Homo sapiens: one gene and its partners. The protein of the gene in region 1 interacts with the protein of each later gene in a biochemical or structural test. Each region holds a gene or a part of one and is shown in the gene's direction. Other genes may lie near its edges.

The links. The genes of interacting proteins can lie anywhere in the genome.
Region 2: the proteins of UBE2E3 (region 1) and KLHL42 form a complex in vitro, tested with the Homo sapiens proteins (one study listed by BioGRID).
Region 3: of the proteins of UBE2E3 (region 1) and RANGAP1, one has a biochemical effect on the other in vitro, tested with the Homo sapiens proteins (one study listed by BioGRID).

What each region holds. Positions count from the first base shown.
Region 1 is NC_000002.12:181,060,572-181,063,927, forward strand, and holds the end of UBE2E3 (ubiquitin-conjugating enzyme E2 E3), read left to right. Parts: intron 1-93; coding exon 94-241; intron 242-2,219; coding exon 2,220-2,317; 3' UTR 2,318-2,854; downstream 2,855-3,356. UniProt on the Homo sapiens protein: Accepts ubiquitin from the E1 complex and catalyzes its covalent attachment to other proteins. In vitro catalyzes 'Lys-11'- and 'Lys-48'-, as well as 'Lys-63'-linked polyubiquitination.
Region 2 is NC_000012.12:27,776,113-27,783,267, forward strand, and holds the start of KLHL42 (kelch-like protein 42), read left to right. Parts: upstream 1-4,120; 5' UTR 4,121-4,218; coding exon 4,219-5,090; intron 5,091-7,155. UniProt on the Homo sapiens protein: Substrate-specific adapter of a BCR (BTB-CUL3-RBX1) E3 ubiquitin-protein ligase complex required for mitotic progression and cytokinesis. The BCR(KLHL42) E3 ubiquitin ligase complex mediates the ubiquitination and subsequent degradation of KATNA1.
Region 3 is NC_000022.11:41,248,153-41,255,187, reverse strand, and holds part of RANGAP1 (ran GTPase-activating protein 1), read left to right. Parts: intron 1-521; coding exon of another isoform or gene 522-603; exon of another isoform or gene 604-693; coding exon 694-880; intron 881-2,137; exon of another isoform or gene 2,138-2,196; coding exon 2,197-2,316; intron 2,317-4,078; coding exon 4,079-4,181; intron 4,182-5,370; coding exon 5,371-5,459; intron 5,460-5,736; coding exon 5,737-5,858; intron 5,859-7,035. UniProt on the Homo sapiens protein: GTPase activator for RAN. Converts cytoplasmic GTP-bound RAN to GDP-bound RAN, which is essential for RAN-mediated nuclear import and export. Mediates dissociation of cargo from nuclear export complexes containing XPO1, RAN and RANBP2 after nuclear export.

The sequences.
Region 1 (3,356 bases):
CATCTATGATATATTACCCTTCATTTTTTTTTAGTGTTTTAATTGGTAATACAGCATTCATTTTCCTTCTGTTTTTAATGTGACTGTGCTTAGGTTACTTTCCGCACCAGAATCTATCACTGCAACATCAACAGTCAGGGAGTCATCTGTCTGGACATCCTTAAAGACAACTGGAGTCCCGCTTTGACTATTTCAAAGGTTTTGCTGTCTATTTGTTCCCTTTTGACAGACTGCAACCCTGGTAAGCAAATCTTTATTAACATGTACAATAAGACTACAAAAACGAGTGCTTTTTTTTTTTTTTTTTTTTTTTTTTTAGTTAGCTTTAAATGTAGATTGAGAGGTAAATGTTATTCATAGAAAGATCCCCATAAAACAGTTTGTGAGGAAATTACCAATGCCATTTGAAGTAGACTAGGCCAAAAGTTTCTCAATACCTTCATTTAATTTGTTAATGGCATACCACTCTATAATTATTTTGTCACCATCATTAATGGAATCTCTACTTTTAAAAGTATTTAGGTGCACAGACCACTTCTTTTTTTTTTTTTTTTTTTTTTTTGAGACGGAGTCTCGCTCTGTCGCCCAGGCCGGACTGCGGACTGCAGTGGCGCAATCTCGGCTCACTGCAAGCTCCGCTTCCCGGGTTCACGCCATTCTCCTGCCTCAGCCTCCCGAGTAGCTGGGACTACAGGCGCCCGCCACCGCGCCCGGCTAATTTTTTTGTATTTTTAGTAGAGACGGGGTTTCACCTTGTTAGCCAGGATGGTCTCGATCTCTTGACCTCATGATCCACCCGCCTCGGCCTCCCAAAGTGCTGGGATTACAGGCGTGAGCCACCGCGCCCGGCCGACCACTTCTAACAAGAGTAAAGCAATGTGTCTGAAACCAGTGCCTCCTTTTCCTGCTCCTTCCATGCTGCTGTATGCTTTTAGGCAACTACTTTAATAATAGAAGGCTTCTTGTTCTCCCTTCCTTTTTTAATTAATTAGTTATATAAAGTGTAGTAGTAATGGATATTAAAATGATAGCCAATGAGAATTGAACTAGATTATGATTATATAACCTCAGATAAAATCATTTGTGTATAATTCATAACTTTAAAAAATGCCTGCCACATGTGAACTTCAGAAACTTGGGTAGCTGACTTGATAAAGTGATGTTTAGACCTGAAATTTCACACATTTTGTTTCGTTATGTGACCTTTTTTTTTTTTTTAAGTTGACTTACTTCTAAATATTTGATAAGTCACTAAAGACTGTTACTGTTGTTACCTTATGCTCGGCAGAGATACATATGCAATAGATAGTGACAGATGGATATTCATTGTGGTATCCTTTATTAGAGTATTGGAAACAACCTCAATGCCCATTAATAGATGTAACGTTTAAAAAGAATGTGACAACTCTATATGAACTAATAGGGAAATATCTTCAAGATATATTAAGTATAAAAGGCACTGGAAAAAAATACATATACACAACATAATATTCTAAATGCTTGTCAGTGCATGTAAGAACTCTGGGAAGTAATGTTGTAAATGGGTAACAATTGTTTGCCAGGGAAAGAAACTTCTGAGCAGTTGGAGTCAGGAAGGAAGATAGTTTTTTTTTACTGGCTATGGTTTGGTACAATTCAAATATTGTACCATATGTACATATTTTTTTGTTTTTAAACATCAAAATAAAAATTTATATCAGGTTCACTCTCTAGTTCAGAATTCTACTTAAAACAAAATGGCAAGTAAGTTTTCAAGTGTAAATATTGATAGTGATTAGAGTCATATCAGGCACAGAATGAAGGAAGCATTTTATTTGAAATAGCATGGTATTGTAAGACTGGGGTTTTATTTTAAAATTAACCATTTTTGAACTATTCATAAGCAGAAATATAACCACCTAGTATACTTCCATTTTGAATGAAAGGCCAAAATTACAAAATAGTTTTTGTATATTAAAGACATATCTTTTATAAAAGTCAAATCTAACTTTTTATATATAGCTCAAAATTCATTTTTTTTTTTATGAAGGGGACTTTCCTAACTGGAATATTAAAATATACATATGATCATGTTACTTTAAACTTTTTCTTTTGAAAATTTAGCTATTATATATGAAGATACTGCTGAAAAATAAGCATTTCATTTTAATAGAATATTAGAACTATACCTTGAAGAAGATACCACAAAATAGCTTTTAATGTTCTTTCTGCTTTTCCAGCGGATCCTCTGGTTGGAAGCATAGCCACTCAGTATTTGACCAACAGAGCAGAACACGACAGGATAGCCAGACAGTGGACCAAGAGATACGCAACATAATTCACATAATTTGTATGCAGTGTGAAGGAGCAGAAGGCATCTTCTCACTGTGCTGCAAATCTTTATAGCCTTTACAATACGGACTTCTGTGTATATGTTATACTGATTCTACTCTGCTTTTATCCTTTGGAGCCTGGGAGACTCCCCAAAAAGGTAAATGCTATCAAGAGTAGAACTTTGTAGCTGTAGATTAGTTATGTTTAAAACGCCTACTTGCAAGTCTTGCTTCTTTGGGATATCAAAATGTATTTTGTGATGTACTAAGGATACTGGTCCTGAAGTCTACCAAATATTATAGTGCATTTTAGCCTAATTCATTATCTGTATGAAGTTATAAAAGTAGCTGTAGATGGCTAGGAATTATGTCATTTGTATTAAACCCAGATCTATTTCTGAGTATGTGGTTCATGCTGTTGTGAAAAATGTTTTACCTTTTACCTTTGTCAGTTTGTAATGAGAGGATTTCCTTTTACCCTTTGTAGCTCAGAGAGCACCTGATGTATCATCTCAAACACAATAAACATGCTCCTGAAGGCATAGTTTCCTGTCGTAATATTTTAAGTCAGTCTTGTTAGAAAGTGTGTCTGAGATGATTGTTGATGAAGTAAAAATGTGGCTATGAAGATTACTAAAGACTAGCACAAATAAACCCATTCTTAAATTGAAAACATTTAAAATCCTATTAAATGCATAGAGTTTTTTTCCTTTGTTATTGAAAGAATGACCTTAAATAATCAAAAGTGGATTTTGACCCATTGGTCTCAAACACATAAAGTTGTACTTCGGTAATATGATGTTTAAGCCAAAAAGAATATGAAATCCTGGCTCGCTCACTCAGGAATCTGGTAATGTCTTATGGAACATGTTGCTTCCAAATTGATGATTTTTGTTCAGCACTGGGCAATATTGTCAGATGGTAACTGTGATGTGGTAGCTAGTCTGTGATGCACTTTTTACTTCTAATCCTGGTCTTGAATGTTCATGTTGTGTATTACCATTCTTACTATGGCAAGTGGCCAGCAAATACAGCCAGAGGCAG
Region 2 (7,155 bases), on another chromosome or scaffold:
ATTTTTCAGTGATCCTAAAGAAAGATCTACACAAAAACTTCTAATGGCTCCTTGGTATTTCATTCTACCATACCAAAATTTACTCTGCACTTCAGCTTCCTCAGCTGTAAAATATAAAAACAGTACTGTAATCCATGTAAAGCACTTACAACAGTGCCTGGCACATGCTAAACACTCAATACATATTAGCTACTATTATTATACATTATGTTGTTTTCCAATTTTTTGTTATTAAAAGCAATACTGTGATAAACATCTTGTACTAAGATTTTTTTTTCTACTTGCTATTTCAAAAGGGATATTTTCCATAAGTTCTTTAAAAAATGACCTACTTCAGCTGGGTGTGGTGGCTCATACCTGTAATCCCAGCACTCTGGGAGGCTGAGGAGGGAGCATCACTTGCGCCCAGGAGTTCAAGACCAGCCTGGGCAACATGGTGAAACCCCGTCCCCACAGAAAATGTAAGAATTAACCGGGCATAGTGGCGCAGGCCTGTATTCTCAGCTACTTGGGAGGCTGAGGTGGGAGGAGCACTTGAACCTGGGAGGCCTCTGGGAGGAGCACTTGAACCTGGGAGGCTTCATTGAGCCATAATAGTGCCACCACACTCCAGCCTGAATGGCAGAGTGAGACCCTGTCTAAAAAAATAAAAAATAAAAAATAAAAATTACCTAACTCTATTTGACCATTACGCTTCTGTAAAACTGTTTTACAGATAGTACCACAAAACTGGTTTTTATTATTCAATGATCAGTCAATAACAGATCTATAAAATTATACCTCCAGTTATATAAAGCAATATTTTCAGGAAGACTAGGAATAATTTTAGGTCTTTTTAAAATAAAGGAGTTTATATTGCTCTGACTTTGCATTTCTAGCTTAACAGAAAACTTACTGCATAATTTATTAAAATGATTTGATCATTTAAGATGCTCCCAATCCTAAATAATGTTATTATCATATTGGGAGCCAAAAAAACTCACAAGATCAATGCCCAGTATTGTGAGACTAATACCCCAGACTCCCTGTCCAACCTCATCTTACCCTGATAATGTTACTGTGCTTGAATTGCCTTTCTAATGCACATCATTCTTTGAGCATGATTTTTTTGGTCTGTTTTAAAAAGGCAAGAAAATACCAGTCTGAGGCATATCTATGACGGCTGGGAAACAAAAGCATCCATTGGTGAAAGATTCAAGAGACAGAGGAGAGACTGAGAGCCTGTTCTTTGTGGCTGACCCACTGAATCTGGCATTGTTGCCGGTTGAGGCATAGAAAAATCGTAGGTCCAAGTCTCTTTGATACAGGGGACGCATCCCAGCAAAATTCCCCAGCCTGATGCTTAATACTGGATGTTACACTCTACCATCCCAAAGAAGCTGCTAAATGCTTGATCACTCACTCCACCTCCTGCTCCAAAGCTTATCGTGTCTCACTGCACCCTCATAGAGAATGGAAGTGTGAAGGGTTGATGTGAAAATGGAGTTTTATCAGTAACGATTTAAAGGCCAGGTGAAACAAGGTGAAGAGATGAATGTTTTTTATAGAATCCAAGAAAACAACTGAGTAAGTCATAGATCCATTTTTATTTCCTTCATTTTTTTCCAGGGAGGCCAGAATCTACTAGAACATTTTCTATGTCTTTTATTTTTTAGTTCCTTATTCCTAGCATTATTATAAAGAAAATAGGCCAGGCACAGTAGTGCTTTGAGAGACCAAGGCAGCAGGATCACTTGGGGTGGCAGGATCCCTTGGGGCCAGGAGTTTGAGGTCTGTCTTGGGCAAGGTAGCAAGACCCTATCTCTATGGAAAAAAAAAATGCATTTTTTTTTGCTGGGCATGGAGGCTCATGCCTGTAATCCCAGCACTTTGGGAGGCCGAGGTGGGTGGATCACGTGAGGTCGGGAGTTCCAGACCAGCCTGACCAACATGGTGAAACCCCGTCTCTACTAAAAATACAAAATTAGCCGGGTGTGGTGGCTCATGCCTGGAATCCCAGCTACTCCGGAGGCTGAGGCAGGAGAATCACTTGAACCCGGGAGGTGGAGGTTGCAGAAAGCTGAGATCGCAGCATTGCACTCCAGCCTGGGCAACAAGAGGGAAACTCTGTCTCAAAAAAAAAAAAAAATGCATTTTTTTTTCTAAAAAATAAAAAGATAAACCTCCTTTCCCAAGTAATAATAATAAACAAAGTAAAAGATGACAACAACACCTCTCTGTGAAGCAGATAAATTTCGTAGTAAGAACCACAAATGTAACCAAACTATGTTGAAAGGATCTCATGTTTCACCTTTGACTTTCTTTTAGTTCTCTGGTTTTTAACCCTTTCTCCTTCCTAAGGTAAAATGTTAGCATGGTAGGATGTATCTTCTTTAAATAGGGGAAATGTACTTATGAAGAAGATATTATTTAACAATCTGTCATTCAAGAAGAAAGCTGAAGCTTGTAATAATAAAAAAAAAAACCAAACACATATTCTCTCCAAGTTAAGGACTGTTTATCATAGGTGGTTCTCAAATCTTGGTTTGGGGTAAGTTTTCAAGGTTTTCTGTTTTTGTTTTGTAAGATAAGAGTGAACACACCCTCTGCTTCCTCCCAATCCTTCTCCCTTCTCCTACCCAAAGATAATCCAAACAATATATTTCTCCCCCCACCCCCTTCCTGGGATGAATTCATTAGCAAGACAAAAAGTCCTTCCTATTATTATTTGGGGTGGGCCTTCTAATTGCAATGTTCAGTGAGAGAACATAGGAAACAAGTGGTCTCTCTTTTCCGAGACGGCGTCTCGCTCTGTCGCCCAGGCTGGAGTGCAGTGGCGCGATCTCGGCTCACTGCAACCTCCGCCTCCCGGGTTCCAGCAATTCTCCTGCCTCAGCCTCCCGAGTAGCTGGGATCACAGGCGCGTGCCACCACGCCCGGCTAATTTTTGTATTTTTAGTAGAGACGGGGTTTCACCATGTTGGCCATGGTGCTCTCGAACTCCTGACCTCGTGATCTGCCCACCTGGGCTTCCCAAAGTCATGGGATTACAGGCGTGAGCCACCGCGCTCAGCCAAACCGCACGTGTGGTCTCTCTTAATAGTCCTCAGATGATGGGGGCAGGGTAGGTGGAGAAAGGGGGTGACAAGAAAAGCTACTTCTTGCAGACATTTATGAGCCAATTTTGTCAGATCTTTTGCGCCAGGATAACATTCCGTAATGGACTGGACTGAAGTAGAAAAGCAATGGCTCATAGAAAACATGGTTTAAAACCAGAAGCCACGTGATGTAACTTTATTTAGTCGGGCTGCGCTTTCATCTTTCTTTTAATAACTTAGGGAGAATAAGGGGCCCCAGTGGCAAATGCAAGCTCCCCTGCCTCCCAACCCGATTCCTCTGAGAACCTGCTGCCATCTGCCTGGACCTCCTGTAAGATGGCTCCTACGCGACCACGCTACCAGAGAATCAGCTCTACGTGCCACCAACATTGCCACCAACTGTCCATAGATCGCCTGCGTGCCTCAGCCCACTGACACTCGATGCCGGACTGGGCCAGAAGGACGACCCCATATTTGATGCCTTTTTGTCTCCCTGGACCAGAGACTCCATCCTTCCCTTTCCTCCCACGCTCATTTCTTTTTCTTTAGCCCGTGTAAAGCAGCGTGGGAGAGAAAACGAATTTCTTCTCCCTGGGGTACCCCGGAGCATCACTGCAGCCCCCAACAAGCGGCGGAGCCGGCGCGCCCCGGGCGGGCGGAGAGGCTGCGGGGACGCGCGCCCTCCGCCTCCCGCAGCTGCGCGTCCGCAGCCGAGGCGCCCGGGCCCGCAGCTTCCCGGGCCTCCCCGAGAGCCGGATCCAGCCGGCAGGTCAGGCCGGCGGCTGGGGTCCCGCGGGCGGAAGTGAGAAGGGCGGCGGGGGAGGAGGCTGCTGGCTGGGAGCTGGAATTCCCTTCCCGCCTGGCGCCGCCCGGGAGAGCCCGCGCGAGGACGCCCGCCGCGCTCCGCCGGCCCTTTTTTGGCGCTGAGGGAAAGGAGAAGGGCAGGGCCGCCGCCTCGCGGGAGCGGGCCCCGGGAGGAGGGGCCGCCGGAGAGGCCGGGCGAGCGCGGGCGGCCCTCACCTCGCCGCTCCTCCCGGGCCGCCATCCCTCGGCGCCCCGCCCGGAACCGGCGCGCGCGTAGGGGCTGGGAGGCCGGCGCGCAGATCTGGCGGTGAGCGCTGCCGCCCCGGGGCCCCCAGCCATGTCGGCCGAGGAGATGGTGCAGATCCGCCTGGAGGACCGCTGCTACCCGGTGAGCAAGAGGAAGCTCATCGAGCAGAGCGACTACTTCCGCGCCCTCTACCGCTCCGGCATGCGCGAGGCCCTGAGCCAGGAGGCCGGCGGCCCGGAGGTGCAGCAGCTGCGCGGCCTCAGCGCGCCGGGCCTGCGGCTGGTGCTGGACTTCATCAACGCCGGCGGGGCCCGCGAAGGCTGGCTCCTGGGCCCGCGCGGGGAAAAGGGCGGCGGGGTGGACGAGGACGAGGAGATGGATGAGGTGAGCCTGCTGTCCGAGCTGGTGGAGGCGGCCTCCTTCCTGCAGGTCACGTCCCTGCTGCAGCTGCTGCTGTCCCAGGTGCGGCTCAATAACTGCCTGGAGATGTACCGCCTGGCGCAGGTGTACGGGCTGCCCGACCTGCAGGAGGCCTGCCTGCGCTTCATGGTCGTCCACTTCCACGAGGTGCTGTGCAAGCCCCAGTTCCACCTCCTGGGGTCTCCTCCCCAAGCTCCAGGGGATGTCAGCCTGAAGCAGAGGCTGAGGGAGGCCCGGATGACTGGGACTCCTGTCCTCGTGGCCCTCGGGGACTTCCTGGGGGGACCCCTGGCCCCTCACCCCTACCAGGGGGAGCCCCCGTCCATGCTCAGGTACGAGGAGATGACTGAGCGTTGGTTCCCGCTGGCCAACAACCTTCCTCCCGACCTGGTCAATGTCAGGGGCTATGGGTCTGCCATCCTGGACAACTACCTCTTCATAGTGGGCGGGTACAGGATCACTAGCCAGGAGATCTCCGCTGCGCATTCCTACAACCCCAGCACCAACGAGTGGCTCCAGGTGGCCTCCATGAACCAGAAGAGGTAAGCACCCCGGCAGAGTGCTGCTGCCTTCTCATTCATTCACTTGTTCATTAGTTCATTACCCCAGTGTTTACTGAGCCAGTAAATAGGGGAGGGTGTGCTGTGGTGGAAATGACATCTTCAGGAATGTTGTTGGCCTTGGCGCTGGCAAAATTCCCAATGAACTAAGAAATTGCGAAGAGGACGTCCCCAGTGAGGTCAAGAAGTGGAGTGGTTTTTTGGCAGGTATTGTGCCTTTAGGTGAAACTGCTTTCTTTGCCTCTGTTCTTGTGAAAAAAGATGTTGTGGTTTCCTACAAGAATACTTTAAAAGAAAATTGCCCCTTAATTTTTAAAAAATTTGTCTTAGTTTTTAGGATTTGATCCTGATGATAATGATACACTGGACAGTAACCTGTAACACTGACTTTGGGGGATTTTTTTCTGATGTCAGTGACTGTGACAACAGAGTCTTCCACACTGTGATACCCATCATGATCAAGAGATAATCACTGGAAATGTATTAACGTTTGCAATAGGGGTTGCTTTTCTTATTTTTTATCCTCTCTTTTGCTTCCTTCCCTGGACAGCCATCGTCATGACCCACAGCTTGAGCCTGGAAGTGTTCAACTACAGAATTGGAATATTTTCATTTACGCAACCTTCTCCCCCTCCCATCCTGCAAATCTCTCCTGCCTCCAACAAGGGTGACTTGAAGAAAGGAAGAGGAGGAGCTTGAGGAGTGGGATGAGAGGGGAGAAGGGAAAGGAACCAGGGAAGGAATATCAAAACAAGAGCAAAGAGCATATACAGGAAGAGATGGTAGGAAATAAAGATGGTAGCGCCTAGGAGGCCTCAGCGTCATTCAGAAGCAGGGAAAAGAATCAATGTAACTCAAGAAAGGATGAAAATACCCTTTCTTCCCATCCACGTGTTTCCATCTCAATCCTCACAGGGTCCTGGTCCTGAAGTGTGGAGCAAGGAGTTGGGGAGCTCACAGCTGGGCAAAGAAAGTCTTAACAGTAACAGAGAATCCTTTATATATCTGTTTATTTGACTCGAGGGTCCTCCTCGGCCAGGGATTATTTGGGGGAAATAACTGGCTTTATTTCTCCTATAATATGAAATTCATTTTGAAAAGTATGCTTTTTCCCCTGATAATACATAGTTACAGAAAACTGGAAAATGGAAAAGAATGAAGAAGCAAAAAGATGATTATTCCTACCCGCTCTTCCTAGAGGCAGTAACCAGGTTGGCATATTTCCTGCCAGCCCATTTTTAATGCATTATTTACACCATTGAGATGATACCATATTTAAAATTTGGTATCAGAAGTGTTATTTTAAAACAAATTCTATGCACTGTAATTGAAACAACAAAGGAACATTGTGTGGCCATGGGTGGTGGTCTGATTAGGGGTGGGCGGCCCTGAGTTCTCTCACTCCTCTTGCATTCCTCTAGCTACACATCATTTGGTGCTCACCAGGCCATCCTTAGTGCCACAGTTCCTCACACTTCTTTCTTCCCTTCATACATCCTTGGTAGTCTTTGTCTTTTTTTCTAGGAAGGCCCTTTTCATCCCCTTAAAAAAAAAAAAAGCATTCAAGTAATGCATGAATGCATGATTCTTAGAAAAACTGCAAATTACACACAAAACTGTGGAGTAAAAAGAGTAAATGTCTGCCCTCAGGGTACAGAAAAAAAGTGTCAGTGTATCAACAGACTTTTGTTACCTTTAGATATTATAAATGTATAAACATTTATACTGTAAATTATATGTATACTTGTATAAATACAGTTAACCCTTAAACAATGTGGGGGCCAGGGACACCAAACCCTGCACAGTCAAAAATCCCCATATAACTTTTGACTCTCCCAAAAACTTAACTACTGAATAGCCTACTGTTTACCAGATGCCTTACCAATAACATAATCAATTAATACATTTTGTATATGTAGTATATACTTTATTCTAACAATAAAGTATGCTATAGAAAAGAAAATGTTATTAATAAACTAAGGAAGAGAAAATTAAGCGGAAGTGGATCATCCTTATCATCTTGACGCTGAGTAGGCTGAGGAGGAAA
Region 3 (7,035 bases), on another chromosome or scaffold:
CTCTTCTTCCTCCCCCACACCTGTAGCTTCCTGAGGTCATGTGGATGTGGGCGCCCCTGCCCTGGCATCTCAACCTGGGCAGTGTTCCTGCCAAGCCCTGGGCTCTAGGTGTGACAAAGCTGTCTTCGTTTTCTGTCTCTCCATGAAACCTGGGGCTCCTTGAGGACAGGGACAAGATCTGATTTTTTTTTGTTTTTTTTTTTTGTTTTTTTGTGGGGGATGGAGTCTCGCTCTGTTGCCCAGGCTAGAGTGCAGTGGCACAATTTCGGCTCACTGCCAGCTCCGCCTCCAGGGTTCACGCCATTCTCCTGCCTCAGCCTCCTGAGTAGCTGGGACCACAGGCGCCCGCCACCACACCCGGCTAATTTTTTGTATTTTTAGTAGAGACGGGGTTTCACCACGTTAGCCAGGATGGTCTCGATCTCCTGACCTCATGATCCACCCACCTCGGCCTCCCAAAGTGCTGGGATTACAGGCATGAGCCACCGCGCCGGGCCGATCTTATTTTTTTGTGTCCACAGCATGGATTTCCCTGGTGATCCACCTGCCCCTGCCCTGGGAGCAGGTGCTCCCACCCCACCAGGCTCTCTCCCTCCTGGCTGAGGTGAGGTCTCTGGGCTCATGGAGCCAGGCCTTAGAGCCAACCTGGGCTGCTGGGTAGAGAGGATCTGCTTCAGCCAGCTCTTTCTGCAGTGATGACGAGGACGAGGAGGAGGAGGAGGAAGGAGAAGAGGAAGAAGAGGAAGCAGAAGAAGAGGAGGAGGAAGATGAGGAAGAGGAGGAAGAAGAGGAGGAGGAGGAGGAAGAAGAGCCTCAGCAGCGAGGGCAGGGAGAGAAGTCAGCCACGCCCTCACGGAAGATTCTGGACCCTAACACTGGGGTGAGTTTCTATCATCTGCCACAATCAGAGCCCTGGTCCTGAGAACGTGAAATCCCGAGGCACTTTCACAATGGGGTAGGGGGTGTCTCCTTAAGCACAGTAGCCACAAACATTTTTTTTTGATTGCATGATATTGAGTAAAAAAAGGAAAATGGTCCCAGTGTAATGATAGTTACCTATATTTCTTTTTTTTTTTTTTGAGATGGAGTCTCACTCTTGTCACCCAGGCTGGAGTGCAGTGGTGTGATCTCGGCTCACTGCAACCTCTGCCTCCCGGGTTCAAGTGATTCTTATGCCTCAGCCTCCCAAACAGCTGGGATTACAGATGCTTGCCACCACGCCTGGCTAATTTTTGTATCTTTAGTAGAGCCGGGGTTTCGCCATATTGGCCAGGCTGGTCTTGAACTTCTGACCTCAGGTGATCCACCCTCCTCGACCTCCCAAAGTGCTGGGATTACAGGCATTGAGCCACCGGGCCCAGCCATAGTTACCTATATTTCTATTTACCCCAATATAAATGTCTATTTACAGGTAGCAGTGCTGCTGCATTATGTATATTATAAGATATGCATAAGGGTTTCTGAAAGAATAAACAAATAAGCATAAATAGAAATTCTGATTTTTTTTTTCCCCACCCACCAGAGGATTGTCTTGGTGACCCTTAGGAACCACTCCCCCATTCCTGGGATGGTGGCTGGGCCATGACCTGGCTTGGGCACTTGGTGTCCCTTGTCTGGCCCGGGGCTGCATCAGGGCTGCCACACCTCCAGTTCATTCATTTGCATTCCCTGTCAGGTTCCTAAGTAAAGCTCCTGGAGAACTTGGCTCTGGACAAGGACTCCCCATGCTTACGCTGAATTGGGCTGCTTCTCTGGTTTATGGAATCAATTAAACAAATGGCTAGGTTCGCCTCAATTCAGTTTTTCCTCTGGGCACCTCTGGTGCTAGCAGGGCTTACCCAGGCTGGACTGTAGTTCTACGGGGACCCACTTTAGCCCCCATGTGCCTCCGTAGTCATTTCTGGGGCACTGCATGTCATGACGAGGATCCACTTGGCCGTAGCAGGTTTTTTGAGTCCCAGGGAGGTAGCTTCCCCCTCACCCCAAAGGCTCCTGGACCAAGAGCCATCCAGGGCCAGCATCTCTGGGTGATATTGATAGATGGGAAATGCAGCTGAGTGGGAGGAAGAATTCTAGACTTTGAGCCTAGATGGGCTGGAGTGAAGGGTGGATGTGCTGGGTGTGGGGATGGGCACAGCTGTGTCGGGGAGTCTGGGGTCCGGAATTCTCCAGAGCCTCTGTGCCCCTACTTCCCAGGAGCCAGCTCCCGTGCTGTCCTCCCCACCTCCTGCAGACGTCTCCACCTTCCTGGCTTTTCCCTCTCCAGAGAAGCTGCTGCGCCTAGGGCCCAAGAGCTCCGTGCTGATAGCCCAGCAGGTAATAACCACCCCTCGACCCCCACGCTGTACGTGCTGTGGCTTCTGGAGCTGTTAGAGAAAAGGGACGAACAGCTCAGAGACCTGGGGGTGCGACGCTGTCAGCTGGGGGCAGGGAGGCTTGGCCTGCCACTGTTACAACACGCGCAAATGTCCAGGGTATTTATAAGCCTCCAGGGGTTGCAAATGTTCCCTCCCCACTCAGCCTACAGAAAGTACAGCCCGCCAGTTCCCATGCTGACTGGGGTTAGGGAATTTCCTTAAGAGCCTTGCATGTGCCCACCCCCTCCTTGGCTTCTCTCTGCGTGTTCCGTCAGCCCAGCTGCTTCGAGAACAACTCTGTTGCCCAGGGCTCCTTTGGAAGTGACGTGCCTATTGCAGGATGGGTGCCCTCACTCCAGCCTCACTTGTTGGTTGGCTCATTCATTCATTCATAGATGATCTTCGGGGCATCCATTTTCTGCCAGGCACTGCATTTGGGCATGATTTTATTTAACCCTCTTGGCAACATGAAATGTAGACTCTGCTGCCCTTACTTTATTTTATTATTTATTTATTTATTTATTTTTTTGAGATGGAGTCTCACTCTGTCGCCCAGGCTGGAGTGCAGTGGCACGATCTCGGCTCACTGCAGACTCTGCCTCCTGGGTTCAAGCAATTCTCCTGCCTCAGCCTCCCGCGCCCAGCTAATTTTTGTATTTTTTAGTAGAGACGAGGTTTCACCACGTTGGCCAGGCTGGTCTCAAACTCCTGACCTCATGATCCACCCACCTCGGCCTCCCAAAGTGCTAGGGTTACAGGCATGAGCCACCGTGCCCGGCCAGCCCTTATTTTGTAGATAAGAAAGCGGAGGCTCGGAGGTTACAGAGAAATAAAATGGGCCCACTCTCAGAGTTGGCTTAACATTTCGGCCAATTGCTTTGTTAGGTTTTGCCTGTATTCTTTGTTTCTTTTAACATGATAAATCAGATGTTGTAAGCCTTTCTGTGGCCTATCACTTTGGTGTAGCACCATTCATCACTTTCTTGTGCCCATAAAACTCTTCTCAGGATTTTTATTGCAATGTGTGGATGTAGCACTTAAAAGCCAGGCACTGTTTCTGACGTTTTTTCCACTTTTCCCTGTTGTGAGGTTGAGGTAAACGTTTCTGCATGTGAGTATTGTCTACATGCTAGATTATTTCTTCAAGTTCAATTACAAGATGGGGACCACTGGATCCCTGAAATGATTTTTTTTTTTTTTTTTCTGAGACAATGTTTTGCTTTGTGACTCCGGCTGGAGTGCAGTGGTGCAATCATGGCTCAGTGCAACCTCGACCTCCTGGGCTCAAGCAGTCCTCCTGCCTCAGCCTCCCAAGTAGCTGAGACTATAGGCACACACCACCAACCTTGGCTAATTTTTTTCCTTTTTGTTGACATGGGGTCTTGCTATGTTGCCTAGGCTGGTCTCAGACTTTTCGCCTCAAGCCATCCTCCCACCTCAGCCTCCCAAAGTGCTGGGGTTACAGGCATGAGCCGCCACACCCGGCTGGGATGATTTTTCATCCTTGTTCATTCACTCATTCATTCCCTCTCTATGCTGCATATGTGCTTGCTGCAGGCCAAATCCAAGCCAGACTCTGAAGGGACAGCATGGGGTAAGGCAGGACCTGTTCTTGCCCGCCAGGGGCCTTTGTACTGCCCAGGCCTCTCCTAGCTAGCGTCAGAGCCCAGGTACCTCTCCACCACGTGCCACAGGCCAACCATTGTCTCTTTTGTCCTCAGACTGACACGTCTGACCCCGAGAAGGTGGTCTCTGCCTTCCTAAAGGTGTCATCTGTGTTCAAGGACGAAGCTACTGTGAGGATGGCAGTGCAGGATGCAGTAGGTAATGTGGGCTGGGTGAGACCTGGGTGCCCTCTGTCCCTTGATGCTCGTGGGCCCCAGGTATCCTTCGTGGTTGCCGTAACTCGTCAGCCCCAGCGCTCTCATGGGAACTGCTCTTTGGCCACCTGAGTTTTTCCTCCGTCAGGGTCCTGCCGTGGAGCCAGCTGGCTGCTCTTCTCCCTGTTTTTCACCACTGAGAAACTGAGGCCTTTCCCAAATCCACACAGCCATGTACAGTTAGAACCCATAGCCCGCTCTAGGAAGTCCAGATAGTCACATCTGCAAGCCCAATGGACGCAGGTCTATCGGGAGGAGGGATGGTGAGAGCCAAGCCCTTGTCCACACCTTGGAGCTTCTGTGCTCACGTCCACTCTACCTGGAGGTTCCTTGCACAGAGGACACCTTTCCCCATAACATTATGGGGGCTTCCTTGGAGCACCAGCCCATATCCCTCCAGCCCTATCACAACCCTCTCCCCACCCTGTCTGTTTCCTCCATTCCAGCACCTGTCACCTTCCACCCTGTTTCCATGTGCTTGACTGAGCCTCCACATCTAACGAAACCTGAGCCAGTTCCGGTTAGGCAGAGGGGAGGAAGGGCCCTGAGGCGAGGGGGACGGTTCCTGGAAAAGATAGAAAGGGGTGGAAGGACATGTGGTGCCTCTTCCCGGCGTGGCGTCGAAGCGGGGAGGGCGGCTCAGTGGGAAATGAGGCTCGGAAGGAGGTGGGGGCCAGACACAAGCCTGCTCCCTGAGGGCCCGCCTGTGGGCATTTTTGGGAACAAGTTGCCCTAGTTCTGTTTCCCAGGAAGCCTAGCACAGTCCCTGCACATCCCCTCACCCTGCCAAAATAACCTGAATCCTCCCCAGTGGTAGCCTGCCTCAGGAAATCTCCATTCCCACGGTGTGAGGTGGGCACAGTGGGTGTCATCCCCATGCCCATTTTATACCTGAGGCCAGGATGGGCAAGGGCCAGAGTGTCACAGCTGGCAGATGGACTGAGCCCATCCCCTGATGCCAACTGCCACTCCCTCTGGTTCCTGTGTCTCTGCCGTCCCTCTCGTGTTCGCCTCTTCGTCAGGGCGAGGAGGCAGGCGAGCCTGTGTCTGCGCGGTGTTGGGGGAACCCTGGGTGCCTTGGCCCAGCCCTCTGCCATAGCCAGCAGCCTGCCCCTGCTGCTTCTGCCCTACAGATGCCCTGATGCAGAAGGCTTTCAACTCCTCGTCCTTCAACTCCAACACCTTCCTCACCAGGCTGCTCGTGCACATGGGTCTGCTCAAGGTGAGGCCGGAAGGAACAGCAGGCCCGGGAGGGAGGTGGGTGGGGTCTGCACAGAAGCTGCCCCAGCCATGCCCGCCAACCTCCCTCACCTCGAGTCCTGAGCCGGCTCGCCCACGGGGCCCCGAGGCCTGGGTCTGCCCCAGCAGCCTTGGTCTTCACGATGAGATTCCGGCTAGACTCAGTTGTGGGCACTATCAGCAGAGTCTGGATGGTGGAGTCCAGGGGCCCCCCCAGGTGACTTTGAAGCTCACCCCGCTTTTCGCTGTGTTCCTCTCAGAGTGAAGACAAGGTCAAGGCCATTGCCAACCTGTACGGCCCCCTGATGGCGCTGAACCACATGGTGCAGCAGGACTATTTCCCCAAGGCCCTTGCACCCCTGCTGCTGGCGTTCGTGACCAAGTGAGTGTGGCCTTGTCCTTCTGCCGGTGCCTGCCCTCTCGGGCTTCTCTGGCCAGGTCTGAAGGCGCCCGGTTCCGGGAGGCCCAGCCCCAGCCCAGCCAGCCTGCTGGCCCCACTCAGGTGCATGAGAGGCCCTCATGCCTCCTGGGCTCTCAGCATCTGCATTGGAGTCTCACCACCCTTGGGAGGCCCACTCCCCTCTGCCCAGCTGAGGACAGTGGGGCTCAGGGACAGTGAGAGAGGAGACATGCGGCGCCCCCATTGTGCAGATGAGGAGCACTGGGTTGGTTAAGGAGTTTCCCTTGGTCACACGCTAGCAAGAGGCTGGGCCAGTGTCCAGACCCATGTCTGCTGAGCGAGGTGCTGCGGTTGGTGACATCTCCGGAGTGGCTTTTTGTCCACATTCACAGCAGCGCAGGCCAAAGGGGCCTGGTCACACCAGGCTCTGCAGCCCCGGGCCCTCTCCTGGGGACACACATTGCCACGGGAGCTGCCAAATGCCCAGCAATGTGTGAACCTTGGCCTTGTTCTGGAGGGTCCTGGGGTGTCCCGGGGCATTGATGGGGTGATGGGCACAGTCAAGTAAGAGAGGCAAGGCCCCACCAGGGAGGGGTCGGGAGGCTTGCCCTCTGAAGGCCCTGTGTGGCCCCTGGCCAACCTGTGGCCTTCATCAGGCCTCAGTCTCCCCATTTGTCCAACCGGGGGGTTAGGTGAGATTGTCTCCAAGCGCCCTGACCAGCCACACTTCCAGTCAGTCGGCGCCATCCGGGGACATGGGGCAGGCAGAGGAGCAAGGAAGTCCCTTTGCTGGGGGAGCCCAGAGCCCACCAGCTGAGGCAGGATACTTGGTGCATGTGGGGAGGCGGGGCTGGCGGAGCGTGAGCGGCCCCCGCTGGCCTCCAGCACCCAGCTGGTGCCGCGGCAGCCCTGTCCACTCCAGTGTCTGCATGGCGCCGCCTCCTTAGCCAGGCCTTACCTTCTGGCCGCATTTCCCCCACACCAGACCACCCCTTGGGCTGCAGCTGGACTGGCCTTGGTGAATGGCAGATCTCACTGTTCCCCTCCTCTGCCAGGTGCTAGGTAGAGCCTCACTGTGAATCTCATGGCTGGCCACAGCCTCACCCCGACCCCACCCCACCCCACCCCAGCACAGTGTGCTCTCCCTGAGCCCCTTTCC